Linked DNA regions of Homo sapiens: region 1 is linked to region 2. The links come from fine-mapping of genetic effects on gene expression. A gene starts in region 2. The other region holds a variant in brackets. All regions are shown on one strand. Distances are between the middles of the regions. Region 1 holds the start of LOC102723760 (a long non-coding RNA gene). Region 2 holds the start of STX12 (syntaxin 12).

Region 1 (16,547 bases), 610 kb before region 2:
ATGCATTTATGTCAGAATCAGTACACATGGTTCCCCTTGTCCAGTCCTTGATTTCTCTCCAGGAAGCTAACTGCCATCAAGGTATAGGTGCTGATGGCTTAGTTCCATGTAAGGCTCTGCTACTGTGACCAGCTTGGCACAAGAGCCCTGCACCAGGAACCCAGCTCCTGGATCTGTCAAATTAGAGGCACCACTTCCCTCCCGCTGCATGTCCCAGAGCCTGCCTCACACCAGCCCGGCAGCACCGCTCAGCTCCTGCATGTCCTTGGGAGAGCTGGAAGGTTTCCTGCCAAATTCCCAAACCCAAATCTCAGGCAGAGGGGACAGCAGAGTCCCAGGACCTCATGCCTTCCACAGCCAGCTGGGGGCAAGCTGAAAATGCAAAGGCAGTTGTCAAAGTCCCCCTGAACACCACTTTCAGGGACTTCTGGGCAATGTAGGCTCCAGTAAGCTCCCCCAATCACTCAGCAGAACAGAGTGCTCAGGCCTAGCAGGGAGACCAATACTCTGAGAGCAAATAAGTTGTCTGTTTCCTTCTCCCCAAAAGAAGGTTTCAAAGTCTCTTCAGGCCTGAACATCCCTAGGCTCCCCCATCTACCTCATCTACTTGATTGAGCAGCAGGCCAGACAGCACCCTGAGACACAGCCAGGCAGCGACCTGGGGGTGAGCTGGGGTCAGACCAAGCCTCAACCTCCTCTACTCTCCCTCCACTTCCAAAACAGACTTCAGAAATTTCCAGGGCCCCTTGTCCCACAGATTCTATAAAGTATGGCATTCCTGGGCCGGAAATTGACTCAGGGGCTCCTAACTAGCCTGGACAAGCAAAGCTGACAGATAACATTCTGGAGATGAAGGAAAGGTGGGAATATGGGGATCCCCTGTGTTCCACCACACTTGTAAGTTTCCTGTGCCCAGGTCTCCACTATGCTTAAACTCCTCAAGCAGGCCAAGTAGAAATATACTCCATCCTGGAACACGCTCCAGTGAAGCCTGTCATAAATTGCACTGGTTGCTGTTGACAGAGCAGAATGTGCCACTCGCCAGAAGACACTCCTTTCTGTCTCACACACAGCGGGGTGCCTGGCTCCCCTGGGGGTCTGGCCCAGCCAGAGGAGACTTGCCAGTCGTGGAAGCCTTACTGAAGGGACCTAGGATCAGAGGCATCCCATTCTCTAATCCTGCTCTCTTCTGTGCACAGTGCTGGCTCCAATCTTGGGAAGCCTCAGATCACAGATCAGAAGCCACAGAACTGGAGCCTGAGAAGGACCAAGGTGGCAGGATGGAGACTGCCTACTTTATGGGGGTAGTTCAGATCCTTACTCCTGGACAGCCTCAAATGGTGCGAGATGAGGCAAGAAGCTCACCAGTCTGGTGGCGGCCGCAGCATCGGAGCAAACGGGACTTACCTATCTTCATGAGGCAGGCCAGAAGGATCCAGAGGGAGATCTCGAAGGGGGTGCGCACGTGTGTGTAGTCGATGCCCAGGACTGGAAAGGCCTTGCGCGGCTTCATGCCATGATCAGTGACGGAATGATTAACAGGGCGGCTCTCTGGGGTGACCTCCGGTGGAGCGGTGGTGACATCCCCAATCGAGCGTTCTCGTGGTGGCTCTGAGCTTCGAATGGTGCTGGCAGTTGGGCTGAGCTGGAGGCCATGGCTCCTGAGAACAGGCAGCAGCCCCACCAAAGCAACCACCACGAGTAAGGAAGGGAAGATCCGATGTGGAGAGAGGCCACAGATGCCAGACCGCAGAACCATGGTGCTGCTTCCAGAGCCAGCCTCGACCTTACCCAAATGAGAGTAAAACCGGGCACATAGGTAGCAAAGGGTCAGCAAGTGGGAAGAGAGACTGGCGTAGTCTCTAGGAAAAGTTCATGTTTTAGAGAGGCATTTCCATGGAAGCAATTTTCTGGGGGTGGAGGGAGGCTGGGTTTGCAATCTGGAACTCCAAAGTGGGGAAAGGGGGCAAGGACCCAGGAACGACCACGAAAGGAGACCAAAAGGTCTGGAACTCCGGGCCTGGGAAGGGGGAGGACGGATGTGGGAAACTGAGCCCTAGGGATAGAGGAAGGGGCAGGATAGGGATAGTGCAAAGGAAAGGAAGAAGGAAGGCTGGGACCTTTGGCTGAGGAAAGTGACTGAGGAGCTGGGACTCTGGGCTGTGGGCTAAAGGAAGGGGTAGGGAGCCTGAGCTAAAGGAAGGGGACCGAAGGGGGTGAGAGCCAGTCCAGGAAAAGGAGAGAGGGGGCTGGGAGCCCAGGCTGAGAAGGAGTGAAACCGGGAAGCGGCCGGGAGCTTCTCCACCCAGAGAGGGGCAGGGGTCCAGGCGCGCCGGGCTGAGATTCCGGGGAAATGGAAAGAGGCGGAAGGCAGGCGGCCTGGCGGGAAGGCGCCTCGGCGCGGGCTGGGGGCGGCTCGCGGTGGGCCAGCAGCAACACGCCCCTCCTCGCGGCCCTGGCGCGACGCGGCGCTCCGCCCCGGCCCAGCTGCAGCTCCTCCTGGTCCAGCTCCAGAACTAACCCTAGCCCCGGCCCCGGCGGCAGCAGACTGAAGCCTAGCTGAGCCCGGCGCTGTCACTTATAGGCACCAGCGAGCAGCCGGTGCGGCGGGCTAGAGAGACCGTCGGCACCCGCCCAGCGCAGCGGCCCCTGTCGCCGAGGGAAAGAAGTATCGCGTAGGAAGAGGAAGGAGAGTCAGAGATGACAAAAAAAAAAAAAAAAAAAAGTCCTGAATATACAGAGAACCTCACTAACGCGAGTAAAATGCCGACTACTTACAAAACGATTTCACGTCCACATCTGCAGTCTCATAAGGGCTTTCGAATAATCCTGTGAAGAATGTATTATTAGTTTATGTATTTAGTTACCGTGTGACCTTGAGCAAGTTACTTAACCTGTTTCACAACTTTCTCATCTGTTAAGTAGAGACAGTAATAGTGACTATGTCAGAGGGATGATGTAATGACTGAGACAATCCGTGTAAACTATTTGGAATGCACCCTGGCACATTATTACAATTCCACTTTTACAGATGAGGAAACAGGTGAAGAGAGTCCCCTGGCTACTATGCAAGTAGTTGTATTGCTTACTAGGGCTGCCGTAACAAAGTATCACCCCAAACTGGGTGGCTGCAACAACAGAAATTGATTGTCTCACAGTTCTGGAGGCTGGAGGTCGGATCTAGGTGTTGGCAGGGTTGGTTTCAGCTGAGAGCTATGAGGGAGAATCTGTCCCATGCCTTTCTCCTACCTTCCAGTGGTTTGTTAGGACTATCTGGTATTCCATGGAGTTCTCCTGGTGTCTCTGTCTCTGCGTCCAGATTCCCCGCCCACACTTTATTTTTATTTTTATTTTTTTTGAGATAGAGTCTGGCTCTTGTTGCCCAGGCTGGAGTGCGGTGGCGCCATCTCAGCTCAATGCAACCTCTGCCTCCTGGATTCAAGCGATTCTCCTGCCTCAGCCTCCAGAGTAGCTGGGATTACTGGCACCCACCACCACGTCCAGCTAATTTTTGTATTTTTAGTAGAGATGGGGTTTCACCATGTTGGTCAGGCTGGTCTCGAACTCCTGACCTCAGGTGATCCACCCGCCTCGGCCTCCCAAAGTGCTGGGATTACAGGGGTAAGCCACAACCCCCAGCCAGATTTCCCCTTTTTATAAGGACACCAGTCATTGGATTAGAAATCCAACGTAATTACCTCATCTTAACCTGAACATCTTCAAAGACTGCATCCTAATTAGTCCATCTTCATAGGCACTGGGCATTAGGACTTCAACTTCTTTTGCCGGGACACAATTCAACCCACAACAGTGGCATGCTTTAAGTAGTGGAACTTAAATTTGAACCTATAGTTTGGTTGAAATTGGTGAGGTTCAAGGGATCATGGCTGTACAATGGAATCACTGGAAAGCTTTTTTAAAATACCATTGTCTAGGCCGGGCGTAGTGGCTGACGCCTGTAATCCCAGCACTTTGGGAGGCCGAGGCGGGCGGATCACGAGGTCAGGAGATCGAGACCACGGTGAAACCCGGTCTCTACTAAAAATACAAAAAATTAGCCGGGCGCAGTGGCGGGCGCCTGTAGTCCCAGCTACTCGGGAGGCTGAGGCAGGAGAATGGCGTGAACCCGGAAGGCGGAGCTTGCAGTGAGCGGAGATCGCGCCACAGCACTCCCGCCTGGGCGACAGAACGAGACTCCGTCTCAAAAAAAAAAAAAAAAAAAAAAAATTAGCCGGGCGTGGTGGCACATGCCTGTAATCCCAGCTAGTCAGGAGGCTGAGGCAAGAGAATCACTTGAACCCAGGAGGCGGAGGTTGCAGTAAGTCAAGATTGCACCACTGTACTCCAGCCTGGGCAACAGAGCGAGACTCTGTCTCAAAAAAAAATAAATAAATAAAAATAAATACCATTGTCTGATAAAATTAGCTGTGCTTGGTAGTCCTAGCTGCTTGGGAGGCTGAGGCAGGAGTATCATTTGAACCTAGGAGTTTGAGACTACAGTGAACTATGATCCACCACAGCACTCTAGCCTGGGCAACAAAGGGAGACCCTGTCAATCATAGTAATCATCATCATCATCATCTTTTGTAAAATATCATTTTCGGGGACCCACCGTCAGAGATTTAGATTCAATTACTTCAGGGTAGTGCCAAAGTATTTTTTTCAAAGGCTCTGATATACAACTAGGGTTGGGAGGTATAGAAATCACTGAAATGCTGTCCCTGTTTTGCAGAAGAGTACATTAAGGCCAAAACAGTCAAAGTGTCTAGCTCAAGGTCACATCACAAGTACTTGAGATTCAATTTAGTTTAACAAATGTTTACTGGGCCTCTTGACAGGGCTTTGTGCTGGGCTCTGGCAACACAGAGATAAGCCAGAGGGAGGAAGGAGGTGGTAGGAATTGGGAGGGGGCATAAAGTGGACATAATGAGGGCTTCTAGAATGCTGGTAATGTTCTATTTCTTTACTGGGTGATAGCTACAAAGGTTACAGCGACGTAGTTGTTTCGTGATAACTCACTGAAGACTCAAGATGTGTGCACCTTTTTCTAGGTATGCTATCCTTCCATGGAAAAATATATTAAAATAATAATAAGCTAGCAGCAGTGGCTCATGCCTGTAATCCCCGCAACTCAGGAGCCTGAGATGGGAGTATCAGTTGAGGCCAGGAGTTTAAGACCAACCTAGGCAACATAGGGAGACCCTGTCTTTAAAAAAAATAAGTAAAATAAAATAATAATATCCAGGTGCAGTGGCATGCACCTGTAGTCCCAGCTACTTGGGAGGCTGAGGCAGAAGAATCACTTGAACCCAGGAATTTGAGGCTGTAATGCACTATGATTGTGCTTGTGAAATAGCCACTGCACTCCAGCCTGGGAAACATAGTGAGACCCATCTCTAAAAATTAATTAGGCCAGGCACAGTGGTTCACGCCTGTAATTCCAGCACTGTGGGAGGCTGAGGCAGGCAGATCACTTGAGGTCAGGAGTTCAAGACCAGCCTGGCTAACATGGCAAAACCCTGTCTCTACCAAAAAATACAAAAATTAGCTGGGCGTGGTGGAGCATACCTATAGTCCCAGCTACTTGGGAGGCTGAGGTGGGAGAATCCCCTGAACCCAGGAGACGGAGGTTGCAGTGAGCTGAGATTGTGCCACTGCACTCCACCCTGGGTGACAGAGGGAGACTCTGTCTCAAAATAAATAAATGAATATAAAAATAAAATAATTAATAAAGTGATATGATAGTAACTGAAGGTGGCAACATTAAACTGAGTTCTCTCTCTCTCTCTCTTTTTTTATAATCCCATGCCTAAACTGAGTTCTCTGTACCTCACATTCTCCAGGCACAAATTCCAGCCACCTGGGAAATGACAAAAGAGACTTCAGAGAAGGGCAGGGGACTTGTGTCATCTGGGAGCAGATGAAAGGAGAACATCAGCTATAATGAAAGTAACCAAAGAGCATTTCGAGCAAGGATCAGAATAATAACAATAATGCCTCACAATTGTTCAGCCCTTTAGAGTTCACAACCAAGTGCCCCAGGTTTATCAATGATCCAAATGCTAGGCTGGGTGCGGTGGCTCATGCCTGTAACCCCAGCACTTTGGGAGGTCGAGGCAGGTGGATCACCTGAGGTCAAGAGTTTGTGACCAGCCTGGCCAACACAGCGAAACCCCGTATCTACTAAAAATGCAAAAATTAGCTGGGTGTGGTGGCATGTGCCTGTAGTCCCAGCTACTTGGGAGGCTGAGGCACGAGAATCACTTGAACCCAGGAGGCAGAGCTTGCAGTGAGCTGAGATCACACCACTGCACTCCAGCCTGGGTGACAGAGTGAGACCCTGTCTCAGAAAAAACAGTACCTATTATTCTATTTTTTTCTTTTGAGACAGAGTTTCACTCTTGTCACCCAGGCTGGAGTGCAGTGGCGATCTTGGCTCACTTGCAATCTCCACCTCTCAGGTTCAAGTGATTCTCCTGCCTCAGCCTCCCGAGTACCTGGGATTACAAGCGGCTGCTACCACACCCAGCTAATTTTTATATTTTTGGTAGAGATGGGGTTTCACCACGTTGACCAGGCTGGTCAGGAACTCCTGACTTCAGGTAATCCACCTGCCTTGGCCTCCCAAAGTGCTAGGATTACAGGCGTGAGTCACCGCATCTGGCCAAAGAGTAGCTATTATTCTCATTCCCATTTTACAGGTGAAAAGACAAAGGCCCAGAGACATAAAGCTATTTGCCCAAGGTCACACATCTATTAAGATGCAGATCCATGCCTGGCACAGTGGCTTACACCTGTAATCCCAGCACTTTAGGAGGCCGAGCCGGGCAGATCATTTGAAGTCAGAGGTTCAAGACCAGCCTGGGCAACATGGTGAAACCCCATCTCTACTGAAAATACAAAAATTAGCTGGGCGTGGTGGCAGGCACCTGTAATCCCAGCTACTCAGGAGGTTGAGGCAGGAGAATCACTTGAACCTGGGAGGCAGAGGTTGCAGTGAGCCAATAAAATTAAATTAAAATTTAAAAAAAGAAGCAGATCCAAGACTTAAGTCAGGTTTCTAACACCTAAGTCCAGCACCCTTTTAAAACATCACAGGTTCAGTGTAAAAAGAAGAAAAGAGGGAAAGGATGGGGCTGGTGGAGTGACTTTCCACAGGTGCCCTGGGGCCAGAAGCCCAAGACCTACTGTTCTTTCCAGTCTTGAAGGCAACGTTCACTGGTGTGCTCCCCACTCTCTAATTCTCCCTCACTCAGGCCTCAGTGAGTCTTTGGGTGCCAGTCTGGGACGTGGTAGATCCCAGGACAACCAGGAAATGCCAGCCCTGAGATCCTCCACGGCCTGGAGAAGGTTATAACAACAGAACAATATCAGGAAACAGGCCTTGGGAGAAACCACATGGGAGAGCCGATGGCCAAGGCCCAGCCTGGGCAGGCAGTGTAGAATAATGGATAGTTAAATGCTGGGACTGCCGAACATGGGTAGCCACATGGTCTCCTTTCAGTGCTCTGGCACCACCGCTCACTAGTCATGAGACCCTGGGCAAATCAGTGCCTGTTCTACAGCTTCTTCCTCCATAAGGGGGGACAACAATAGTGTCAACCTCATGGGGCTCTCATGAAGATATTAGCCAATGTATGCGAAGCATTTACCACTGCCCCCAGCAAGTACCACATATATTTACCATCATTCTATTTATTTACATGCACCGAGGACCTCAAGAGTAGACTTT[T/C]GATGTTGGGAACCACATGAAGTTCTGCCTTCAGTCACAGAGAAAATTGACAGGCTGGAAAACAGACCCTCACATCCGTGAGATGGGTCCCACCATCAGACCAGCTGCTATGAATTTAATATTTGTAAATAAATCACATTGATGTGTATTGTATGTTAAAAGCCTTATCTTCTTCTTCCTCTTCTTTTTTTTTTTTTTTTTTTTTGAGACTGAGTCTCGCTCTGTCGACCTGGCTGTAGTTCAGTGGTGCAATCTCAGCTCACTGCAAGCTCCGCCTCCCGGGTTCACGCCATTCTCCTGCCTCAGCCTCCCGAGTAGCTGGGACTACAGGCACCTGCCACCACGCCCGGCTAATTTTTTGTATTTTTAGTAGAGATGGGGTTTCACCGTGTTAGCCAGGATAGTCTCGATCTCCTGACCTCGTGATCCGCCCGCTTCGGCCTTAAAAGCCTTGTCTTCTTAAAAATAATCAGTCAAGGCCAGGCGCGGTGGCTCACGCCTGTAATCCCAGCACTTTGGGAGGCTGAGGTGGGCGGATCACGAGGTCAGGAGATCAAGACCATTCTGGCTAACACGGTGAAACCCCGTCTCTACTAAAAATACATAAAATTAGCCGGGCGTGGTGGCGGGCGCCTGTAGTCCCAGCTACTCGGGAGGCTGAGGCAGGAGAATGGCGTGAACCCGGGAGGCGGAGCTTGCAGTGAGCTGAGATCGCGCCACTGCACTCCAGCCTGGGCGACAGAGCAAGACTCTCATCTCAAAAAAGAAAAAAAAAAATCAGTTAAAATACATAGCAATATTTGTAACCATGTTTGAGCAAGTCATTTTTTGTTTTTTGTTTTTTGTTTTTTTAAGATGGAGTTTCACTCTTGTTGCCCAGGCTGCAGTGCAATGGCGCGATCTCAGCTCACTACAACCTCTGCCTCCTGGGTTCAAGCGATTCTGCTGCCTCAGCCTCCCGAGTAGCTGGGATTACAGGCGCCTGCCACCATGCCCAGTTAATTTTTTGTATTTTTTGTAGACACAGGGTTTCACCATGTTGGCCAGGCTGGTCTCGAACTCTTGACCTCAGGTGATCCACCTGCTTCGGCCTCTAAAAGTGCTGGGATTACAGGCGTGAGCTACCACACCCGGCCAAGTCCTCATTTTTTAACCATTCCAGGCCCACACTGCTTTTGACTCGGAGAGGCCAGGTCTCTGCAGACCCTTCCCCTGCAGATCCAGGACAGCCTCAGGAAGCCTGGACCCTGGGTGGCATCTCCCCCTGCTTAAGCCATGTCTGCTCCCCAATCCCCTCCTTGAATCCTTTCACTAAAAGTGCCTGGAGTTTTATGGCACAAAATGCATGGCCCTAGGAAAGAATCTGCTCAGCCCCTATTAGCTGCGCATTATGAGCAAGTCACACCTTGTTTCTGTCTCTCGCTGTGTTCATGTATATGAAAGCTGGGTGGAGTCACATTACTTGCTTTGTAAGGTTTATTGTAAGGATGAAAAGGCCACTGTATGTCAAGCATAGTTCCTGGTACACAGTCAGCACGCAGTGACTGGGTTCATTTCCTTCTTTTGTTTTTTTTTTTTTTTGAGACAGAGTCTTGCTGTCACCTAGGCTAGAGTACAATGGTGCAATCATAGCTCACAGCAACCTCAAACTCCTGGGCTCAACCGATCCTCCAGCCTCGCCCTCCCGAGCAGCTTGGACTACAGGTACATGCCACCACACCTGACTAATTTTTAAAAATATTTTTGGTAGGGATAGGGTCTTACTATATTGCCCAGGCTGGTCTCAAACCCCTGGTCTTGATTGATTCTCTTGCCTGGGCCTCCCAAAGTATTGGGATTACAGGGGTAAGCCATTGTACTCAGCCGCTCCTTCTTTCATCATAATGTCACAGCCCAGCAAAGCCTTCTTCCAGTCTCCCCGGCACTCACTTCACCACTGCCTCCTTCTATTTCTCAAACACTGGCAGACACACTTCTGCCTCAGGGTCTTTGCACTTGCTATTCCTTCTGCCTGGAACACTCTTCCCCAGATATCCACATGGCTGGTTACCTGACCTCCTTCAAGCCTTTCTGCGAATCTCGCTTCCTGACATGGCCTACTATGTTATAATCCTATGTAATAGTGACACTTCCCCTGCCTGGCCACCACCACTACCACCCAGCCCCTTCCCCTGCTCCTTTTTTCTTCTTTGTATAGCATGTTTCACCTTCTCACATACAGTATAATTCTCCTATTTGTTACTTTTATTCTTTTTTTTTTTTTTTTGAGACAGAGTCTTGCTCTGTCACCCAGGCTGGAGTGCAATGGCATGATCTCGGCTCACTGCAACCTCCACCTGTTGGGTTCAAGCAATTCTCCTGCTTCAGCCTCCTGAGTAGCTGGGATTATAGGCGTGCGCCACCATGCCCAGCTAATTTTTTTTTTTTTTTTTTTGAGACGGAGTTTTGCTCTTGTTGCCCAGGCTGGAGTGCAATGGCGCAATCTTGGCTCACTGCAACCTCCGCCTCCTGGGTTCAAGTGATTCTCCCGCCTCAGCCTCCCTAGTAGCTGGGATTACAGGCACCCGCCACCATGCCCAGATAATTTTTTTTTATTTTTAATAAAGACGGGGTTTCACCATGGCCAGGCTGGTCTCGAACTCCTGACCTCAGGCAATCCACCTGCCTCGGCCTCCCAAAGTGCTGGGATTACAGGCATGAGCCACTGCACCCGGCCTAATTTTTGTATTTTTAGTGGAGACGGGGTTTCACCATGTTGGTCAGGCTGGTCTCGAACTCCTGACCTCGTGATCCACCCGCCTCTGCCTCCCAAAGTGCCAGGATTACAGGTGTGAGCCACCGCGCCCGGCCTATTACCTTTTTTTTTTTTTTTTTTTTTTACTGCATTTTTCTCCCTTCAGAATGTGAGCTCAGCTAGGGCAGGGACCACGTCTATCTCATCCATCACTGTTTCTCCACCATGTAGAACAATGCCCAGTGCATATTGGTACTCAATAAATATTTGCTGAGTGAATGAATCACAGAATGCATTATTTGCACATGAGAAAACCAAGACTCCCAGAGGAGAATTGCTTGTCTGAGGCCATAGAGCTGGGAAGAAGAGGAGCCAGGTTTGGATGCAGGTCTGCCTAACTCTGAAGTCCAGGCTTTTCCCAGTTCTCCAGGCTGATAGCTACCATGAAAAAGCATGTACATGTTGGGTAACTAGAAGAGAGTTCGGAGGTTGGTAAGGAGTTGGAATTTAGGATCCAGCGAATTGCCTTTAAGCTAAGTTCATAATTTTACAATAAACATTTAGTGAGTTCCTACTATGTGCAACTCCCTGTGCTTTCTGCTGGAGGAAAATCAATAATGGATTTGATAAACACCTATCGGCAACCTTGACACCCTAATGTTCACTGACTGGATGTCCCACAGGCACCTCCATCAACTTCACCCACCATCTTCCACTAAACTTGCCCCCATTCTACACTGTCAGAATCCTGTGTGTGTGTGTGTGTGTGTGTGTGTGTGTACTGGAAAAGTTAGGATTTAGCAGATCTGAGGGAACGGGTCCGGGATTGACTTTTTTTTTTTTTTTTTTGAGACGGAGTTTTGCTCTTGTCTCCCAGCTGCAGTGGCACAATCTCGGCTCACTGCTCACTGCAACTTCCGCCTCTTGGGTTCAAGGGCTTCTCCTGTCTCAGCCTCCCGCGTAGCTGGGATTACAACAAGCACCTGCCACCACGCTCAGCTAATTTTTTTGTATTTTTAGTAGAGATGGGGTTTCACCATGTTGATCAGGCTGGTCTTGAACTTCTGACCTCAGGTGATCTGCCCATCTCGGCCTCCCAAAGTGCTGGGATTACAGGCGTGAGCCACCACCCTCAGCCTACACAGCTTTCAGGAAGAGCTGTCTGAGCCATGTTCATCCCCTGTTTAGACAGGCACATACCCCATCCCAGCATGGCACTCAAAGTCCTGCACACGATTTGGCCCACAAACCTTTTTTTCCCCTAATTATTTGTAAGAAAATTTAAAAGTATAAAGGTAATATAGCAAACATCCAAATTCAGAATTATCAGCTGTAACAGTTTGTTATATTTACTTTCAATAATATATGTATATTTTGGCCAGACACAGTAGCTCACTCCAGTAATCCCAGCACCTTAGAAGGCTGAGGTGGGAGGATCACTTGAGGCCAGGAGTTCAAGACCAGCCTAGGCAACATAGGGAGAATCTGTGTCTACAAAATAATTTATGTATTTATTTATTTGTTGTTGTTGGTGGTGGTGGTGGTGTTTTGAGAAGGTCTCACTCTCTCGCCCAGGCTAGAGTGTAGTGGTGTGATTATAGCTCACTGTAGCCTCAAACTCCTGGACTCTAGCCATCCTCCCACCCCAGCTTCCTGAGTAACTAAGACTACAGGTGCATGCCACCATGCCCAGCTAATTTTCTTATTTTTATTTTTAGTAGAGATGAGGTCTTGCTATGTTGCCCAGGCTGATCTTAAGCTCCTGCACTCAGGCAATCCTCCTGCCTCAGCCTCCCAAAGTGCTGAGATTACAGGCATGAGCCACTGTGCCTGGCAAAATAATTTCAAAATTAGCCAGGCATGGCGGTATGCACCTGTAGTCTCTACTACTTGGGAAGCTGAGGCGGGAGGATCACTTAGAGCCCAGAAGTTCAAGGTTACAGTGAGCTATGATCATGCCACTGCACTCCAGCTTGGGCAACATAGCAGGACTCTATCTCCTAAAAAAACTGGCCAGGTGCTGTGGCTCACGCCTGTAATCCCAGCACTTTGGGAGGCCAAGGAAGACAGATCACCTGAGGTCAGGAGTTCAAGACCAGTTTGGCCAACATGCTGAAACTCCATCTCTACTAAAAATACAAAAATTAGCTAGGCGTGGTGGTGCTTGCCTGTAGTCCCAGCTACTCGGGAGGCTGAGACATGAGAATTGCTTGAACCTGGGAGGTGGAGGTTGCAGTGAGCTGAGATCGCACAACTGCACTCCAGCCTGGGTGTCAGAGTGAGACTCCATCACAAAAAGAAAAACAAACCGAAAAACAAACAAAAAACTGCCCTATATGTGTGTGTGTGTACGTTTTTGATGTGTTTTACAGATATCTGTACAATTTTTATCAAATTTTAAAGTCTTTTAAACTATCAGTTACACTTTTCTCCCTTCCTGCTGCCCCAGGCAACATCTATCATAAGTATAATGTGTTATCTTAACACTTTAACACACATCTCTTCATCCCCCACCCACTCCCAGCACTGCCAAATGCTTAAGAGAGTTGTCTACATTGCCTGCATTGTTTTTCTCTCCCATTGTCTCCAACTGATCCGTGGGCTTGCCCTCTCATATGCTGTCCCTAATCTGCTCTTGGCCAGGTGCAGTGGCTCATGCCGGTAATCCCAGCACTTTGGGACACTGAGGTGGGAGGATCGCTTGAGCCCAGGAGTTTGAGGCCAGCCTAGGCAAATAGGGAGACTCCTATCTCTAAAAAAAAAAAAAAAAAAAAAAAAAAATATATATATATATATATATATATAAAATAAATAAAATAGGCCAGGTGCAGTGGCTCATGCCTGTAATCCCAGCACTTTGGAAAGCCAGGATGGGCGGATCACCTGAAGTCAGGAGCTCGAGACCAGCCTGGCCAACATAGTGAAACCCCGTCTCTACTAAAAATACAAAAATTAGCTGGATGTGGTGGCAGGCACCTGTAATCCCAGCTACTCTGGAGGCTGAGGCATGAGAATCGCTTGAATCCAGGAGGCGGAGATTGCAGTGAACCAAGATCGTGCCACTGCACTCCAGCCTGGGTGACAGAGTGAGACTCTGTCTCAATAAATAAATAAATACATAAATATATAAATACATAAATAAATAGCTGCCCTTGTCAATGTTGCCAGTGACCCTCCATGTTGTTCTATCATATGGTCATTTCTCGATCCTCATCTTTCTTTCCCCATCAGCAGACTTCAACATATATAATCACTTGCTCCTTCTGAGAACACTTTCTTCAAATAGCTTATGAGACCCCGCAACCTTCTGGCTTTCCTCCCACTTCATTGGCTGTTCCTTCTCAATTTCCCTTTGTTGATTCCTCCTCCTTCTCTCCTTTTTCCCCCTCTGCCACAACCTCTAAATACTGAGGGCCCCAGGGCTTGGTTCTTGCCTTTTCACTGCTCTGTCTACATTCTTTTCTCTGATGACCTCATCTATTCTCATGATTTCAAGCCCCATCTATATGAGGACAACTCATAGATTTCTATCTCTAGCCCAGTTCCCTACTGTAAACTCCAGACTCCTGCATCCAACTGAACATTCAACATTTTTACCTGGTCGTGCAACAGGCATCTCAAAATCAGCATGTCCAAAACTGAACTCCAGACCTTTCCAACCCCTCCCCAAACCTGCTTCTCCCACTGTCTTCCCCATCCAAGAGATAGCCTCTCCATCTTCCCACTTACTCTGGCCAAAAACTTGAGTCATCCTTGGCTCCTTTCTGTCATATCAATCCTCCACAAATAGTGTCAATTCAATCTTCAAAATATTTCCAGAATCCATCCATTTCTGACCACCTCCATTGCCCACTCTGGTCCAAGCAGTGCCATTTTCCCCACCCAGATTATTGTTTCAACAAAGCAGCCAGAAGGATCCCTTTAAAAGCCTAAGTCAGATGGTGTCATCCCCTGCCAGACCCCCACCTCGGGGTCCTTATTATGACCTACGAAGCCCCACCCAGTCTACTCCCACCTCTCTCTCTGGCCTCCTCTCCTTTATTCCTTCCTCTTCCCTTTTCTCTCCACGTTAACCACCCTGGCTTCCTTCCTATTTATTCCTTAAATACTCCAGGTTTACCCCTTTCAGAGCCTTTGAGCTTACTGTTTCCCCCAGATAGCTACATGGTTTCCTCCTTCACTTCCTTGCTATCTTTGCACAAATGTCTCTCAGTGAGGCATTCCCTGACCAGTCTATTTTTTTTTTGAGATGGAGTCTCGCTCTGTTGCCTAGGTTGGAGTGCAGTGGCTTAACCTTGGCTCACTGCAACCTCCACCTCCCAGATTCAAGCGATTCTCCTGCCTCAGCCTCCCGAGTAGCCAGGATTATAGGCGTGCGCCACCATGCCCGGCTAATTTTTATATTTTTAGTAGAGACAGGAGTTTCACCATGTTGGCCAAGCCTGGTCTCGAACTCCCAACCTCAGGTGATCCACCCGCCTCGGCCTCCCAAAGTGGTGGGATTACAGGCGTGAGCCACCGTGCCCGGCTGTACTGTATATTTCTATTGCCTGTGTTGACCCACTAGACTGTAAGCTCCTCAATGGCAGAAATTTGAGGCAGTAGAGCATAATGATTAATAGGGCTAACTTGGATCCAAACTGTATGGATTCGAATGCTGTCTCTACCACTATCATTTCTTTTCTTTTCTTTCTTTCTTTTTTTTTTTTTTGAGAGGTCTCACTCTATTGCCCAGGCTGGGCAGTGGCACAATCATGGCTCAGTGCATCCTTGACCTCCTGGGTTCAAGCAATCCTCCTGCCTCAGCCACCCGAATTGCTGGTACTACAGGCCTGGATAATTTTGTATTTTTAGTGGAAACGGGGTTTCACCATGTTGGCCAGGCTGGTCTCAAACTCCTGACCTTAGGTGATCCACCTGCCTCGGCCTTCCAAAGTGCTGGGATTACAGGCGTGAGCCACCACGCCCAGCCTTAATGTTTTATTTTTTGTAGAGATGAGACCTTGTTATGTTGCCCAGGCTGGCCTAAAACTCCTGAGCTCAAGCAGTCTTCCTTCCTCGACCTCCCAAAGTGCTGAGATTACAGGCATGAGCCACTGTCTCCAGCCTCTACCACTGTCTAGTCATGTGACCTTTGGCAAGTTATTTAACTTCACTGCACCCCAGTGTCTTAATCTAAAAGATGGGGTAAGGGGGTTGGGCGTGGTGGCTCATGTCTGTAATCCTAGCACTTTGGGAGGCTGAGGCGGGAGGATTGCTTGAGCTCAGAAGTTCGAGACCAGCCTGGGCAACATGGTGAAACCCCATATCTACCAAAATATGAAAAAAAAAAAAAAAAAAAATAGCCGGGTGTGGTGGTGTGCGCCTGTAGTCCCAGCTACTCGGGAGGCTGAGGCAGGAGAATTGCTTGAACTTGGGAGGCAGAGGTTGCAGTCAGCCAAGATCGTGCCACTGTACTCCAGCCTGGGAAACAGAGCAAGACTGTCTCTAAAAAAAAAAAAAAAAAAAAAGAGGATAATAGTAGAACCTATATTGTAAGGATATTGTAAGGATTAAATGAGTTAATGAATGTAAACTGTAAACTGTTTGGAATTGTACCTACATAAGTGCTTGCTGCAATTATTATTATTTATGAATGGCTGGGCACAGTGGCTCCTGTCTGTAATCCCAGCATTTTGGGAGGCCAAAGCAGGCAGATCGCTTGGACTCAGGAGTTCAAGACCAGCCTGGGCAACATGGTGAAACCCCATCTCTACTAAAAACAGAAAAAATTAGCCAAGTGTGGTGGTGTACACCTGTGGTCCCAGCTACTCAGGAGGCTGGGGCAGAAGGATTGCTTGAGCCTGGGAGGTAGAGTTTGCAGTGAGTCAAGATCATGCTACTGCACTCCAGCCTAGGCAACAAAATGAGACTCTGTCTAAAAAAAATAAAATAAAATAAAATAAAACAATGACTGGCTGGCTCCTGGTAAGTCCTATATAACTGTTAGCTATTGCTATTCTCTGCTGTATCCCCAGACCTGAGAATAGCACTTAGAACATAATAAGACATTCAGGAAAAAATTTGTGAGATGAATTAATT
Region 2 (16,547 bases):
CTGGGATCAAGTGATTCTCCAGCCTCAGCCTCCCAAGTAGCTGGAACTACAGGTGGCGCACCAACACATTCAGCTAATTTTTTTGTATTTTTAGTAGAGACGGGATTTCACCATGGTGGCCAGGCTGGTGTCGAACTCCTGACCTCAGGTAATACGCCCGCCTCAGCCTCCCAAAGTGCTGGGATTACAGGTGTGAGCCACTGTGCCTGGCCAAAAAAAATTTTTTGAGACAGTCTCTGTCACTTAGGCCAGAGTACAGTGGTGCGATCTCAGCTCACTGCCCCTTTGACCTCCCAGGCTCAATTGATCCTTCCACCTCAGCCTTCCAAGTAGTTTGGACTACAGGCATGTACCACCATTCCTGGCTAATTTTGTTTATTTTTTGTAGAGATGAGGTTTCAGTATGTTGCCCAGACTGGTCTTGAACTCCTGGACTCAAGTGATCCTCTCGCCTTGGCCTCCCAAAGAGCTGGGATTACCCAAGTGTGAGCCACCTCACTCAGCCAAATGTTCCTTGATTTTTATTATTATTATTCAAAATATAATACAGAATGAATCTGCATGAAGTATGAGTGAAAGCTTTTTGAAATGTCATCTCAGAAGGGGAGGAATGCATCCCTTTGAAACCCTAGAGCCAGCAGGTTTTAAAATGAGAAGTGCCTTTCAGACACTCACTGTTACATCCTGGTCATTCTATAAACTCAAAGCTAATTTTCTCAGAATAAGTTGAAGATACTTTTATTTTGTAGGCTATGGTTGTTTTTGTTTTGTTTTTTTTCTTTGTTTTTTTTTTTTTTTTTTTTGAGACAGACTCTCACTCTGTCACCCAGGCTCAAGTGCAGTGGTGCGATCTCGGCTCACTGCAACCTCTGCCTGCTGGGTTCAAGGGATTATCGTGCCTCACCCTCCTGAGTAGCTGGGATTATAGGCATGCGCCGCCATGCTCAGCTAATTTTTGTATTTTTAGTAGAGACAGGGTTATGCCATGTTGGCCAGGCTGGTCTTGAACTTCTGACCTCAGGTGATCCACCTGCCTTGGCCTCCCAAAGTGCTAGGATTTCAGCCATGAGCCACTGTGCCAGGCCTGTTTTTGTTTTTTTGTTTTTTGTTTTTTTGGTTTTTTGAGATGGAGTCTCGCTCTGTCACCCAGGCTGGAGGGCAGTGGTGCAATCTCAGCTCACTGCAACTTCCGCCTCCCAGATTCAAGTGATTCTCCTGCCTTAGCTTCTCGAGTAGCTGGGACTACAGGCACCCGCCACCACAGCTGGCTAATTTTTCTATTTTTAGTAGAGACAGGGTTTCACCATGTTGGCCAGGCTGGTCTCGAACTCCTGGCCTCAAGCAATCCACCTACCTCGGCCTCCCAAAGTACTGGGATTACAGGCGTGAGCCACCGTGCCCCGCCTATTTTGTAGGCTATATTTATGACTACAATTATTGTGTGAATTATCTTAATTGACTCATTTACTCAGCCTTTAAAACCACTGTAGGGTAAGAAAATAGTATAAACAGGCCAGGAGCGGTGGCTCATGCCTGTAATCCCAGTACTTTGGGAGGCCGAGGTGGGCAGATCACGAGGTCAGGAGTTCAAGACCAGCCTGGCCAACACGGCGAAACCCCATCTCTACTAAAAATACAAAAATTAGCTGGTTGCTATTTTATTTACTGTCCCTGGTGTAAGAACATGTCAGCCTTGATGTTAATTGCACAAATTATAGTCTATGATGCACATGGCACTTTTGCCTGTCCTGGAGGATTGCCTTTAATTAACTGGCTTCCTAGAACATGTATACCTATTCACTATGGTATATAAGCTTTGGGTCTGGGGAGTAACAGCACAGAAATCTACCTGTCTTGTGGCTGCCCAAGACTATGCTTCTGTGTGTAAGTTCCCTCAGTCAATCAACCAATACTGACAAATTGGATTTGTCTGCCTCCTCCTTTGGCTCCTCAGCTCCTTCGGCATTTGGAGTTCACTTTGCATATACAGCCGTTTCACTGGACAGAGGACAACAAAGTAGAAGAGCATATGAGGTGGAGGCTATTGTGCTGACCATCTTATAAAATACAACCTGCCACAGAGGGAATGGGTTTTGGAACTAAACCAGATCGGAGAGAGCAAGCTGTAATGTCCTTTATGTCCTACCTTCAGACATCACACTCCATCATTTCTGCAATATCCTATTGGTTACAGGGGTCAAGTTACTGACACTTCAATGTGGGAAGAGACTGTCCAGGTGCATTAATACCAGAAGATGATATTGAGGGTCCACCTTGGAGGCTAGCTACCACATTGACTTTTGGCCAATAGGATCAAGTAACGACTGTGTGAACCTCTGGATTTTGAAGATAGCAATAAAAATTACCTTTTGGGGGAAAGTAGTTCATACTTCTTAGCTATTACTGGAATCCATGACTTCTCCAACTACCAGGGCTTGCCAGGCTGTACTTCCAGCAAATTATCAACCCTATTTGAAAAGTGAGACTGTGTGGTGCTATGATGTCAGGCTGCCTGAAGTAGAGACTTCCTGTCTCTACTTACCTTAGAGTTGTTGTGAGGATTAAATAACACATATAGAAGTCTTTTTTTTTTTTTTTTTTTTCAGAATCAGATCTCAGCCAGGCACGGCGTTTCACGCCTGTAATCCCAGCACTTTAGGAGGCTGAGGCAGGCGGATCACGAGGTCAGGAGATTGAGACCATCCTGGCCAACATGGTGAAACCCCATCTCTACTAAAAATACAAAAATTAGCTGGACGTGGTGGCATGTGCCTGTGATCCCAGCTACTCAGGAACCTGAGGCAGGAGAATCGCTTGAACCAGAGAGTCGGAGGTTGCAGTGAGCCCAGATCGCACCACTGCACTCCAGCCTGGTGACAGAGGGAGACTCTGTCTCAAAAAAAAAAAAAAAAAAAGACTCAGATCTCACCCTGTTGCTCAAACTAGAGAGCAGTGGCGTGATCACAGTTCACTGCAGCCTCGAACTCTTAGACTCAAGCAATCTTCCTACCTCAGCTTCTCGAGAAGCTGGGACTACAGGCTCAAGCCACTATGCCCAGCTACATGTAGAAGTCTTTAGAACAGTGCTTGGTACATAGTATGCACTCAATTTTGTAAGCTATTATCATCTATGACTTCTACAGAATCAACATTTTATGTTTCCTAAGAAGGAAGGTGATAGAGGCATAAATTAGAATGAACATGTATGTTTACTTGTTTTTTTGCTTCCGAAGTCACTTTAGTCCTATGTCACTTCTAGGCCGTCAGACCATTATTGCAACCCACAACTTTTATACCTCTTTTTCAACTCCACATTACCCACCTCATATATGCCACTTTATTGCGTTGATTTCTAGAGTGTCATTTAAGTATGTGTGTCTCTGTGTGTGTGTATAAAATTGGCATACACAAAAATAACCCTCAGTGCACAATGAGTTTTGACAAGTATATGCAGCTGTGTAATCACCACCATAATCAAGACATGGAACATATTCATCAACCCCAAAAGTTCCCTTGAGTCCTTTGGTGCCCTTCCCTCCACACCAGCCTTTATGCAACCACTAATCTGATTTATATTCCTATAGCTTTGCCTTTTCAAGAATGTCATGTAGCCAGGTGCGGTGGCTCACGCCTATAATCCCAGCACTTTGGGAGGCCAAGGTGGGCGGATCACGTGAGGCCAGGAGTTGAAGACCAGCCTGACCAACATGGCGAAACCCCATCTCTACTAAAAATACAAAATGAGCCAGGCATGGTGGCACATGCCTGTAATCCCAGCTACTCGGGAGGCTGAGGCAGGAGAATCGCTTGAGCTTGGGAGGCAGAGGTTGCCGTGAGCCGAGATTATGCCATTGCACTCCAGCCTGGGCGACAAGAGTGAAACTCCATCTCAAAAAAAAAAGAGAATGTCATATAAATAAAATCATATAGGATATGGCCTTTTACGTCTGACTTTTTTCACTTAGCGTATGTGTTTGAGATTCATCCGTGTTTTTGCATGTCTCAGTAATTTATTCCATGTCTCAGTAGTTTCTTTTTATAGCTGAATAGTTTTCCACTGTATGGATGTACCACAGTTTATCTCTTCAGCAGTTGATGGACACTTGAGCTGCTTCCAGTTTTTGGTTATTACGAATAAAGCTGCCGTAAACATTTGCATACAGGTCTTTTAATAGAAATGTGTTTTTATTATTCTTGGGTAAATATATAGCAGTGGAGCTGCTGAATTGCTGGGTTGTATGGTAAATTTATTCTTAACTGTATACGAGACTGTAAAACTATTTTCCAAAGTGACTGTACCATTTTGCATCCCCACCAGCAATATATGATGAGTGCTAATTTTAATACAGTATTATTTGCAACCTAAGTGAATTTCCCCATTAACTCCTCCCTACCAGTCCCCAGGAAGCTCACCATACTGATAGTAATAGTGATACTTCATGATCTTGGCTTATTGCAACCTCTGCCTCCCGGGTGCAAGCCATCCTCCCACCTCAGCCTCCCGAGTAGCTGGGATTACAGGCCTGTGCCACCATGCCCAGCTAATTTTTGTATTTTTTGTAGAGACAGGGTTTCACCATGTTGTCCAGGGTAGTCTTGATCTCCTGAGCTCAAGTGATCCATCCTTTTGGCCTCCCAAAGTGCTGGGATTGCAGACATGAGCCACTGCACTTGGCCCTATTCTGACTTTTAATAACATAGATTTAATTTGGCCAGTTTTGAACTTAATAAAGATGAAATGATACAGATTGTACTCATTTTATGTCTAGCTTCCTCTTCTCCTTTTTTTTTTTTTTTTTTTTTTTTTTTTTAAGAGACAGGGTCTCGCTGTGTCGCCCAGGCTGGAGTGCAGTGGTGCAATCATAGCTCACTGCAGCCTTGACCTCCTGGCCTCAAGGATCCTCTCACCTTGATCTCTCAGGTAGCTAGGACTACAGGTGTGCACCACTGTGCCTAGCTAATTTGTGTCTGGCTTCTTTAGCTATGCATTGTTGGGAAGAGGTCACCTATGTTGTTCACACAGCAGTAGGCCATTTATTTTTGTGCTTTATAATATCTGTTTATACAAACCTCTGTTGATGGATATTCGAGTTGTTTACAGTTTGGAACTAGTAAAAATAAATACTGCTATGAACTTCATAATAACACCAAATTGGAAACAATGCAAACATCCATCAATAAGAGAATGGATAATCAAACTGTAAGTATATTTATATGAGGAAATACTAATGAGTAATAAAAAAAGACCAAACTACTGATATATGTGACATCATGGATAAATCTCAAAAACATTGTGTTAATTGAAAAAAGCCAAACACTAAAGAATATATAAAGTATGAAGTCCAAGAGCAGACAAAGCTAATCTGTAGTGACAAAAATCAGAAAGTAAAGTCCAGGTGCAGTGTGGCTCATGCCTGTAATCCCAGCACTTTGAGAGGCTGAGCCAGGCGGATCATTTGAGAGGCCGAGGCGGGTGGATCATTCGAGACCAGCCTGACTAACATGGTGAAACCCTGTCTCCACTAAAAATACAAAACAAATTAGCTGGACATGGTGGCGCATGCCCATATTCACAGCTACTTGGGAGGATGAGGCAGGAGAATTGCTTGAATCACGAGGTGGAGGTTGCAGTGAGCCAAGATCGTGCCACTGCACTCCAGCCTGGGCGACAGAGTGAGACTCCATCTCAAAAAAAAAAAAAAATCAGTAAGTAACTTCCAGTGATGAGGGAAATGGATTAAAAAGGAGCATAAGTCAAGGAAACTTTCTGGGGTGATGATAAAAATGTTTTATCTCTTGATTTGGGTGTGGCAGTTACATGGATGTGTACAAGTGTCAAAATCCATTGAGCTGAACACTTACTATCTGTGCATTCGATTGTATATCAATTATAACTCAATAAAAATTAAATGTAAGGGCTGGGTGTCATAGCTCACTCCTGTAATCCCAGCACTTTGGGAGGCCGAGGTGGGTGAATTGCTTGAGCCCAGGAGTTTGAGACCAGCCTGGGCAACATGGCAAGACCACATCTCAACAAAAAAATACAAAAATTAGCCAGGTGTGGTGGTGCGTGCCTGTAGTCCCAGCTACTTGGAGGCCTGAGGTAGGAAGATGGCTTGAGCCAGGGAGATTGAGGCTGCAGTGAGTCGAGATCACGCCACTGCACTCCAGCCTGTCTCCGAAAAAAAAAAACAAAAAGTAAATAAGTATAGAAAAATGCTGCTTGGTCCTAAAAATGCTCCTATGAACTATACCTGATTTTTGGAACACGCATAGTTGGGTATATAGTTAGGAGTAGAATTGCTGGGTCAGAAGGTGCATGGGAATCCTGGCTCTGTCACTTAACAGCTGTATGACATTAGGCAAGTACCCAGAATCTCTAGTTTCTTTATCCGTACCAAGGAGCTAATATCGCCTTGATGGGTGCAAACCCATGAAGACTACTTTCGTTAATTAACAAAAGTATGTAGAGCTGAGAGACATTTTCTCTAAAGCCATAGATTTTTAGAAAATTTGTTGCTCAAATTATCAGTAAGAATGGAATATATCACTCTTACCTGGAGGATCAGTTACTTTGATGCAGAAGAGCAGCCTCAATTTCTAACGCAGGTGCAGAGCTTCAGATAAGGGGTTTCCAGACACAACATTCCACATTTATCTTGGCATCATGGTTTCCAAGGAAACAGGATCTTGTTAGCTGGGGCCTGATGATAATCCCTTTACACATAGCCTGGTGTGTTTGGGGGCTATCAAAACACTGCTTCTTTAAAAATTTATCTACATTTCTTTCCCCCAAATCCTGGAATAACTCACTGTCTTCCTGTGTTTTGTGACATGCTCCATGATTCTTTTGGTGTGCAGTTTCCCTTGCAGCAGCAAGTTAATAAACTTAACTTTGTCTGACTACAGGTGGTCTTTATCAGATGGGCTTTATCTTGGAGATTACTGATAACGTACACAAAATGTGTTCATACTGCCTGGCACCTAACAGGCATTTAAGCAATGATAAAATTATTATTTTTATTATTCATGTGTTAATTCAATAAATGTTTGTTTGACATCCAGTATTTGCAAGGCACAGATTTACTGCTATGAGAGATGCTCACTGCAACCTCTGCCTCCCTGGCTTAAGCTACACTCCTGCCTCAGCCTCCCGAGTAGCTGGGACTACAGGCTCAGGCCACTATGCCCAGCTAATTTTTGTATTTTTGGTAGAGATAGGGTTTTGCCATTTTGCCCAGGCTGGTCTCGAACTCCTGAGCTCAAGCAATGATCAGCCTGCCTCAGCCTCCCAAAGTGCTGGAATTCCAGTTGTGAGCCACCGCGCCCAGCCTAAAAACCACTTTTATTTTACATGGAGAAAGAAAACAATATTTTTAATTCCTAAAAGAAAAATATCTTTACTGAACTTCACTTTAAATAGTGTCAAATGTAAATGAAAAAAATCATCAGTACTATTATATAGGTAAAAAAGTGCAATTTACATGACTTGCTTAAGATTTGACATAAAACTACAGATTCTAAGAAACGGTAAGGTTTTATAATAATAACCAAAACAGGCTGGGTGCGGTGGCTCACGCCTGTAATCCCAACACTTTGGGAAGCCGAGGCGGGTGGATCACCTGAGGTCAGGAGTTCGAGACCAGCCTGGCCAACATGGTCAAACCCCATCTCTACTAAAAATACAAAAAGTACCCGGGCGTGGTGGTACACGCCTGTAATCCCAGCTACTCGGGAGGCTGAGGCAGGAGAATCGCTTGAACCCAGGAGGCGGAGGTTGCATTGAGCCGAGATTGCGCCATTGCACTCCAGCCTGGGCAACAGAGCAAGATTCTGTCTCAAAAATAAAATAAAATAAAATAACCAAAATAAGAGTCCCCAAATGTCATCCGTCTCTTTCTAGAGACAGGGAAAAAAAATGCTCTCATAAATTCTCCAACGAAAAATAGAGATAGTCACCCTTAAAAAATCCTAAGGCTGGTGGGTGGATTGCTTGAGCCCAGGAGTTTGAGACCAGCCTGGACAACATGGCCAAACCCCAACACTACAAAAAATATAAAAATTAGCTGGGCGTGGTGGCGCACGCCTGTAATCCTAGCTACTCAGAGGTTAGGTGGTAGGACCTCCTGAGCCCAGGAGAAGGAGGATGCAGTGAGCAGAGATCGCGCCACTGCACTCCAACCTGCGTGACAGAGCGGGACCCTGTCTCAAAAAAAATAAAATAAAGAAAAAATCCTAAGGCCATATACAGGCTCATTCACTTTGGGTCTCCTTTCATCCAGGCAAGCAGCTTTCTGTCTTTGCATTTTCCAAAGACTACAAAGCAGGCTGGGGTGGGGTGGGGTGGGGTGTAGAACACAGGAAACGCAGCCAGTTCCCCTTCACTTCTCACTATCTTGATCTCCTCCCAAACCAAAATCCTATGTCTTTCCTTTTAACATAGGCTTACAAAAATGCAGTTTTCTGTGGGAACATTGAGGTCATGCATTCCAAATTACTTAAGGGAACGATTTTTAAATTTTAGGAATCTAGTTCTCCAAGATATCCCGGCTTGGGATATAGATGAACGAGCTATTTGGGAGAGATTTAGACGAGAATGAATTTTAGAGAAGTAGCGAGGTGAGGAGAGAGTCAGCTTAGCGTTTGGGTTTTGCAGTCAAATTTCAGCAAGGCGAACTAACCTCGCTGGTCTTAATTTTCTCATCGGTAAGAGGGAAAATAATAATGCTTACTTTGATGAATTACTTTACTTCAACATTTAAAAAACCGACTCTCCGTTATCTATTCTAATGATAAAAATATAGATAGAGCATCGTCCCCTGCTGTGAAAAATCTTATGAACAAGTGAATTGCGGTGAGGATTCACATAGTATGTGCTCAATAAACATTATTTTATTGTTTAGATTAGAAGAGGGGTGGAGGGAGAAATGAAAGTGGTTTGGAAACCCCAAACACTACCAAAGCCCTGGGGATGGAAGTAGAGAGGAATTTCGGGTTACGATTTGGTTCCGGGTCTGAGTTTCAACGTTGAATTCTCCCATATTTGGGCCTGAATTCTCAGAACAGAATAGGATGTAAGGGCTGAGATCATCTGGTACAGTTTTATGCAAATCGAAAATTCTTGCCTCTTGTCACTGTGCCCTGGCGAGAAACAACACCTCCACCCAAGCTCATCCAATCTCAGCCCCAACTAGGTGACGTCATCTCCCCGCCCTGCATCCCCAAGCCTCGGGGAGTCCTGTCTCTAAGCTACAGTCCCAGCTCCAGTCCCAGCTCCAGTCCCAGCGGCGCCTGCGCACTTTGGACCGGGGCGGGGAGGACGCGTGCGCGCCGCGTGAGGGCGGGGCTAGTGCGCACGCAGCCTTAGCTCCTTCCCCGCCCTTGCTCTTCCCAGTTTCTCCGTCAGCCTGCGGGTCCCGGCTGGCGGCTGCTTCCGGTAGGAGAGCGGTGTAGAGCGAGCAGGTCTCAGCTCCTCGTCATGTCATACGGTCCCTTAGACATGTACCGGAACCCGGGGCCCTCGGGGCCCCAGCTCCGGGACTTCAGCAGCATCATCCAGACGTGCAGCGGCAACATCCAGCGGATCAGCCAAGCCAGTGAGCCGGGGTACCGAGCTGGGGGGCGGGAGCTGTCCCGGGGACAGGCCTGGGTGAGGCTGCCGGGACGCAGGGCCCGGCTGGGGCTACGGCCGAGGCCACACCTGGGGCTGTCTCGGGCTGTCCACCCTGGGGGCGGTGGGCTGCCATCCCCCAATCTGTCAGGCCCGGGTTGCCCGAGGGTCCCCGGCCCCAGCTGAAGCTTGAGCTGCTTCTCTGGAGTTCTGCCCCCACGGTGCTGGGACCAAAACAGCCGACTTGACAGCCCGAGGGTGGGAAGGGGAGTGTGTGTCACCTCGAGAGCTGTGAGTGCGTTGACTTGGCGCAGTGGTCAGCCGAGTTTCTCCTGTCACCCACCTTCCTCCCCACCCACCTCGCTTTCCTCTTAGACCAGTTTGGATGGGGTTGTTTACTGATTTAGCCTTTAGGTTTACATTCTGCTCAGCCCCTGGCTCCTCGGAAATCAGCAACTTTCAATTAAGGGAAGTGGAGAGTGCATGTGTTTGGGTGACTTCATACACAGTTCTTCCTGTAATGAATTCGGAAATCAGACACAATGACTGGTATTTGAAAGGTGGGATGACTTCATTTTAATAAAGAGAATTCACCAACAGCATTTCAATTTACATTATTTTGTCTTTTGTAACAAATAATTGGGGTGTATTTTTGGATTTCAGGCAGATGAGGCTTTTGTTTTCCTTCCCTACTTAGCTGCTCTTGAACAAATCTGGTACACAGGGAAGCTAAGACACTTAGCCACAACCACATAGCAAGTAAGGCATGGTAGAGTTGTTGGTGGAATTCAGAATGCTATTGCTTGTCTTAAAACTCCCTCCTCCCCATTAGGGTCTGAGTGAAACTGTAGCTGAATGAGTCAAATACAGGGTGTTTCTTGTGCTTGAAAATCATCTTGGAGCCTTATAAACAGGAGATCAGCAGCAGCTTTACTTGGAAAGAATGGTGGTCATCATCCTTGTTGTTTATTATTGTTTTGTGAGCTTGGCGTACTCTGTTAATAGGTAGAACTAGTTAGTCCTGAATTACAATTATATTCTATATTTTAAAGAGTGTCACTTTGCTTTCGTTTTTAAACTTTTAAAAATTTTTCTTTTTTGTAGAGATGAAGTCTTGCTATGTTGGCCAGGCTGGTCTCAAACCCCTGGGCACAAGCACTTCTCCCACTTTAGCCTCCCAAAGTGCTGGGATTACAGGCGTGAGCCACTGTGCCTAGCCTAATTTTTTTGATTTAAAATATTTTTAATTTATTTTTTCGAGACAGAGTCTACTTCTGTCACCCAGGCAGAATGCAGTGATCTGAGTGAAGTGGTACAATCCTAGCTCACTATAACCTTGAATTCCTGATCAGCTTGCTGAGTAGCAAGGACTACAAGGATGCATCTACCGTGCCAGGCTAATTTTTAAATTTTTTGTAGGGATGGGGTCTCACTATGTTGCCCAGGCTCACTTTGCTTTTAAATCTAAATGTATATTGTAGAATTTGAGAAGTAGAAAGTTTCTGATCAAAAGGGATTGAGACTCTGGAAGTGAAAGGAAGAATATGTGGCCTGTTAAAATCCAGAAGTAAAAAAAATTAATATGACCACTGGTTAGAAAGTATAGTACTGTTTGTTCCAGTTTCCTTTTGTGAAGGAGCTGTAATACAGGTTAGATCAGAAAATTCTAGTTCAAGGCTGAAATTTTCTTGTTGAAGCTAAATCTAATTTTAATATCTATTTGCGAAATATTCATTCAACATGTATCCATCTATCCATCTTCGTGTGTATTTTATATATATATAAAACCAGAATACTCCCAAAGGTAGATCCGACATACAGTTTTAAATTTAAATTTAAATTTTTATTTTGAGACAGGGTCTCACTCTGTCACCCAGGCTGGTATGCAGTGGCATGATCTCAGCTCACTGCAGCCTCAACCTCCCTGGCTCAAGCAGTCCTCCTGCCTCAGCCCTACAAGTAGCTGGGACTACAGGTGTGCACCACCACGCCCGGCTAATTTTTATATTTTTTGTAGAGATGGAGTTTCACCATGTTGTCCAGTCTGGTCTTGAACTCCTGTGCTCAAGTGATCCACCCACCTTGGCCTCCGAATAGGCCAGGATTACAGGCATGAATCATCATGCCTGGCCTTCAACATATATTTATTTGAGTATGTAGTAAGTATAAGAACTGGCATGGATCTTTCAACAGGGAACCTGCAGAGTTCATAACCAAAATATAAAGTTGAAAGGGATTGGTGCTATAGAAGACATATAAATAACATGCAGGTATTCTGGGAAGAGAGAGATTGTTTTTAATTGAGAAGGCATTATGGCATTTGAGTTATGTCTGGAAAGAGGATGGAAAGATTTGGACCTTCGAAGGTAAAGAGGAGAAGAGCATTCCAGGAGGGAATAAAATGAACAGGCATCATAGTGGGGAAGCATAGAGTATATCTAGAAGAGTAATTTAATTTGGCTAGAGTGGTGGATTCCAGAAAGTAGTGGGAAAAAAGGATTGAAAGGTAAATTGTGGCCCAAACATGAAGGATGTTAAATGCTAAGCTAAGGGGCTTGGATTTAGTTATTTAGGAAAGTGCGAATTGAATTCAAAGGGAGAGACTGGAATCAGAGATACCAGTTAGGGCTGTGAAAATGAAAAGAAAGGAAAGGATAGGAGAGGTTTCCTTGGTGATAGAATTGGTAAGATTTAGCTATTGATTGGGCATTGGGCCTCAGGGGATCATTTAAGTCAACTGTTAGTAATATTAATAGCTAACATTTGAGTACATACTGTGTTCCAGGCAGTATGAAAAGTGCTTTACATACATTATCTTATTTTATAACAACTCTGAAGCACCAGTATCATTTCCATGTTATGTATTAGGAAACAAACTAAGAAAGGTTAAATAGTTGCCCTGCTAACAAATGACAATATCTGAATTTGAAACTAGGTCTCTTATGACCAGCAATTTGTCTTTTTATTACTTTTTATTAATATTACAGTTCTGGGCTGTGCTCAGTGGCTCACACCTGTAATCCCAGCACTTTAGGAGGCCAAAGAGGGAGGATTACTTGAGGCCAGGAGTTTGACACTAGCCTGGACAACATAGTGAGACCCCATCTCTACAAAAAAAAAGTTAAAAATTAGCCAGACATGGTAGCATGTGCCTGTAGTCCTAGCTACTCAGGAGGCTGAGGCTGGAGAATCTCTTGAGCCCAGGAGTTGGAGGCTGCAGTGAGCTGTGATTATGCCACTGTACTGCAGCCTGGGTGGCAGATCAATACTTTGTCTCTAAATAAATAAATTAAAAATAAATAAATCAATAACAGTGCTATAGCAGTTAACACTTCAGGTTTACAAGTATGCAAATAACTTGTTTTTTCACTCTCCAGAGGACACTCTGTGGGGGAAATACCTGAAGCCGTGGTGCTTTCTCTTCTCGTGGTGTGTTCATCTCCTCTGCCAGATTGTTAGCTCCTTTGAGTCAAGGGACATGACTTATTCATCTTTATATTTCCAGTACTTATCTCAGTCCCAAACATATGAAAGATTCATTGATCCACTATGCAACAAATATTCCTGGAGCACCTGCTGTGTGCTGGGGTGAAGCAGAACAAGAGATAAAATCCCTCCCCTGATTGTGTGTATATGTGTGTTTCTGTGTGCGGGGGGAGTATGTATACACACATACGTACATACACATATAAATAATGTCAAGTAATAATAAATGCTATGAAGAAAAAGCAGGGTAAGTGGGTAGAGAGTCAGGGAAGAGGGAGGGTGGGTGCATTATTTTAGTTGATCAAGGAAGGCATCTCTGAGGAGCTGACATTTGAGTGAGTAGACATGTGAATGAAATGAGCAAGAGCTGTGTGAGTAGCTGGGAAAGGCATTCTAGGTAGAGGGCAAGAGCAAGGACTTTGATGTGTTCAAAGAAGAGCAAGGAGGCTAGTTTGGCTGGAGTACCGTTAGAAAAGGGAGGCAGAATAGGAAAAGAGGCCAGAGAGGTAACCAGGGATCACATTATATAGGATCTTGATGCATAATAAATTGTATCAAATTGATTTGAATGAATGAGGCATTTCTACCATTTTGGAACTCTTCCTGCCTCTTTCCCCTTGTACTGTGTAGTACATACCATATCCTATGACCCTAGGCAGTGTGAGTTGAGATTCTTCCAGGCCGGACACGGTGACTCACGCCTGTAATCCCAGCACTTTGGGAGGCTGAGGCAGGCGGATCACAAGGTCAGGAGTTTGAGACCAGCCTGGCCAATATGGTGAAACCCTGTCTTTACTAAAAATACAAAAAAATTAGCCAGGCGTGATGGTGCACGCCTGTAATCCCAGCTACTTGGGAGGCTGAGGCAGGAGAATTGCTTGAATCCGGGAGGCGGAGGTTGCGGTGAGCCGAGATTGCGCCACTGCACTCTGGCCTGGATGACAGAGCGAGACTCAGTCTCAAAAAAAAAAGAAAAAAGAAAGAAATTCTTCCTTTGGAATTGTTTGGTGAGAAATGGGAAATCTGAAATTGATGGGATGACGTTGCATCTACTCAGTTATCAAGCTAGTGCCTATCCCCAAACCTCTCCAAGAGGCCAGCACACCCAAATATACCCTTAGAATATGAGCTCTCAGACATATATATTACCCACACACCCATACAGCCCTGCAAGGACTTGTACCCATTAAAAGTCTGAGAGCATAGTTATTCTTTTTTCTAAACTGTTCAGCCACAGATGTGGGGTTGGAATTGCTGAGCACATCAGCCTGAGATAAGGCAGCTCACTGCGTGGGTTGTTACAGGTACAGCTAAGGTTGACTGCCTGGTACAAGTGGTGATTATCAGTATGTGTTGGGTACAGAAGAAAAATATTTGACTTACTGTGGAACAAAGTGTCTGGGCAAGTATTGCTGAGGCAGATATAGCTGAAAACCTATTAGCCTCAAAGTTAACTCTGAAGGGATTAAAGAACAGCATTTCTGACTGGGCGAGGTGTCTCACGCCTGTAATCCCAGCACTTTGGGAGGCCGAGGCGATCGGATCACCTGAGGTCAGGCATTCGAGACCAGCCTGGCCAACATGGCGAAACCCTGCCTCTACTAAAAATCAAAAAGTAAGCCGGGTGTGATGGCAGGCGACTGTAGTCCTAGCTGCTCGGGAGGCTGAGGTAGGAGAATCGCCTGAACTGGGGAGGTGCAGGTTGCAGTAAACCAAGACCAAGATCGCTCCACTGCACTCCAGCCTGGGCAACAGAGCGAGATTCCATCTCAGGAAAAAAAAAAAAAAAAGAACAGCATTTCTGTTCTTTATGTTGCTAATTGATGTGATCTTGTTTACTAACAAAATAAGAAGAGTGGAGGTCTCACTCTGTCACCCAGGCTGGAATGCAGTGTGCAATCGTAGTCCACTGTAACCTCAAACTCTTGGGCTTTAGCGATCCTCTTACTTGAGTCTCCCAAATAGCTAGGACTACAGGCATATGCCACTGCGCCTGGCAAGTTGTAAAAGTTTTTTAGAGACGGGGGTCTCGCTGTGTTGCCCAGGCTGGTCTTGAATTCCTGACCTCAAACCATCCTCCCACCTCAGTCTCCCAAAGCAAGAAGAGTTGAACATTTAAAATTGATTATTATGAAATCCTTGGGGTTCCACTTTCAAAGTTATTTTCATGTTTGCCCCTTATTTTTTATGTTTCTTTGCTATCCTCTTAAGTATTCATCAGCTCAACATCTGTATTTCAACAGCATATTCATAGTGTCTCTGATTATGGTCTTGCCCCATTCTAGTTTATACTGATGGTGCTATCAGCACTATGTCTAAAGTCCTGTTTTTATTATACTGCTCACTTCCTCAAGAGCCTAAAGTGGCTCTCTGTTGTCTATTGAATCAGATGGTTTTTTTTGTTTTTGTTTTTTTTTGTTTTTTTTTGAGCCAAGTCTCACTCTGTCGCCCAGGCTGGAGTGCCATGGCGCAATCTTGGCTCACTGTAACATCCACCTCCTGGGTTCAAGCAGTTCTCCTGCCTCAGCCTCCCGAGTTGCTGGGATTACAGGACCTGCCACCACGCCCAGCTAATTTTTGTATTTTTATAGAGACAGGGTTTCACCATGTTAGCCAGGCTGGTCTCGAACTCCTGACCTCAGATGATCCACCTGCCTCGGCCTCCGAAAGTGCTGGGATTACAGGCATGAGCCACCGTGCCTGGCCTGAATCAGATCTTAATATTTCACCTTGCTTTCACTCCCTGCGATCTTAACCCAAATTAGCCATATTTTCTACTCTTCCTTACTCTTTGCTAGGAAGGCTATTTTCTTTATGTTTCTCAACTCTATCTTTCAGTTTATATTTTGCTCATTTGGTTCCTCCTTTTTTTTTTTAGAGAAAGAGAGTTTCGCTGTTGTTAACAGCCCAGGCTGCAATGCAGTGGTGCGATCTCGGCTCACCACAACCTCTGCCTCCCAGGTTCAAGCGATCCTCCAGCCTCAGCCTCCCGAGTAGCTGGGATTACAGGCGTGTACCACCACGCCCGGCTAATTTTGTATTTTTAGTAGACACAGGGTTTCTCCATGTTGGTCAGGCTAGTCTTGAACTCCTGACCTCAGGTGATCCGCCCGCCTTGGCCTCCCAAAGTGCTGGGATTACAAGCATGAGTCACTGCGTCCGCCCTTTGGTTCCTCCTTTTTTTAGTATCTTTTCTCTCCCTACCTCATTGGCTATCTAAATTATACAAATCCTCTCAGTTGTGCATAAGTCCTGCTGATAGCAATTAAGTTTTTCTTTGCTTGTTTTTTTTTTTTTTTTTTGAGACGGAGTCTTGCTCTGTTTCCCAGGCTGGAGTGCAGTGGGGCGATCAGGCTCATTGCAACTTCCGCCTCCCAGATTCAAGCAATTCTCCTGCCTCAGCCTCCCCAGTAGCTGGGATTACAGGCGTGCACCACATGCCCGACTAATT

Evidence for each region.
Region 1: its variant is fine-mapped to the expression of STX12 in whole blood (TOPMed, PIP 0.98).

Annotation. Positions count from the first base shown.
Region 1 is chr1:27,152,576-27,169,122 of GRCh38, forward strand. LOC102723760 (a long non-coding RNA gene) reads left to right here and starts at 4,986. Exons shown (of 3, transcript XR_426674.4): 1 at 4,986-5,051; 2 at 5,844-5,949; 3 at 7,714-7,893. It overlaps SLC9A1 (solute carrier family 9 member A1), which reads right to left and starts at 2,550. Exons shown (of 12, transcript NM_003047.5): 1 at 1,408-2,550. The coding sequence starts at 1,759. RefSeq lists a silencer at 2,270-2,499 and an enhancer at 3,445-3,944. The variant T/C (reference allele first, on the strand shown) is at 7,733.
Region 2 is chr1:27,763,830-27,780,376 of GRCh38, forward strand. It overlaps STX12 (syntaxin 12), which reads left to right and starts at 9,390. Exons shown (of 9, transcript NM_177424.3): 1 at 9,390-9,596. The coding sequence starts at 9,479. RefSeq lists enhancers at 9,110-9,259, 9,226-9,726, 9,380-9,529, 9,727-10,227 and a silencer at 9,640-9,849.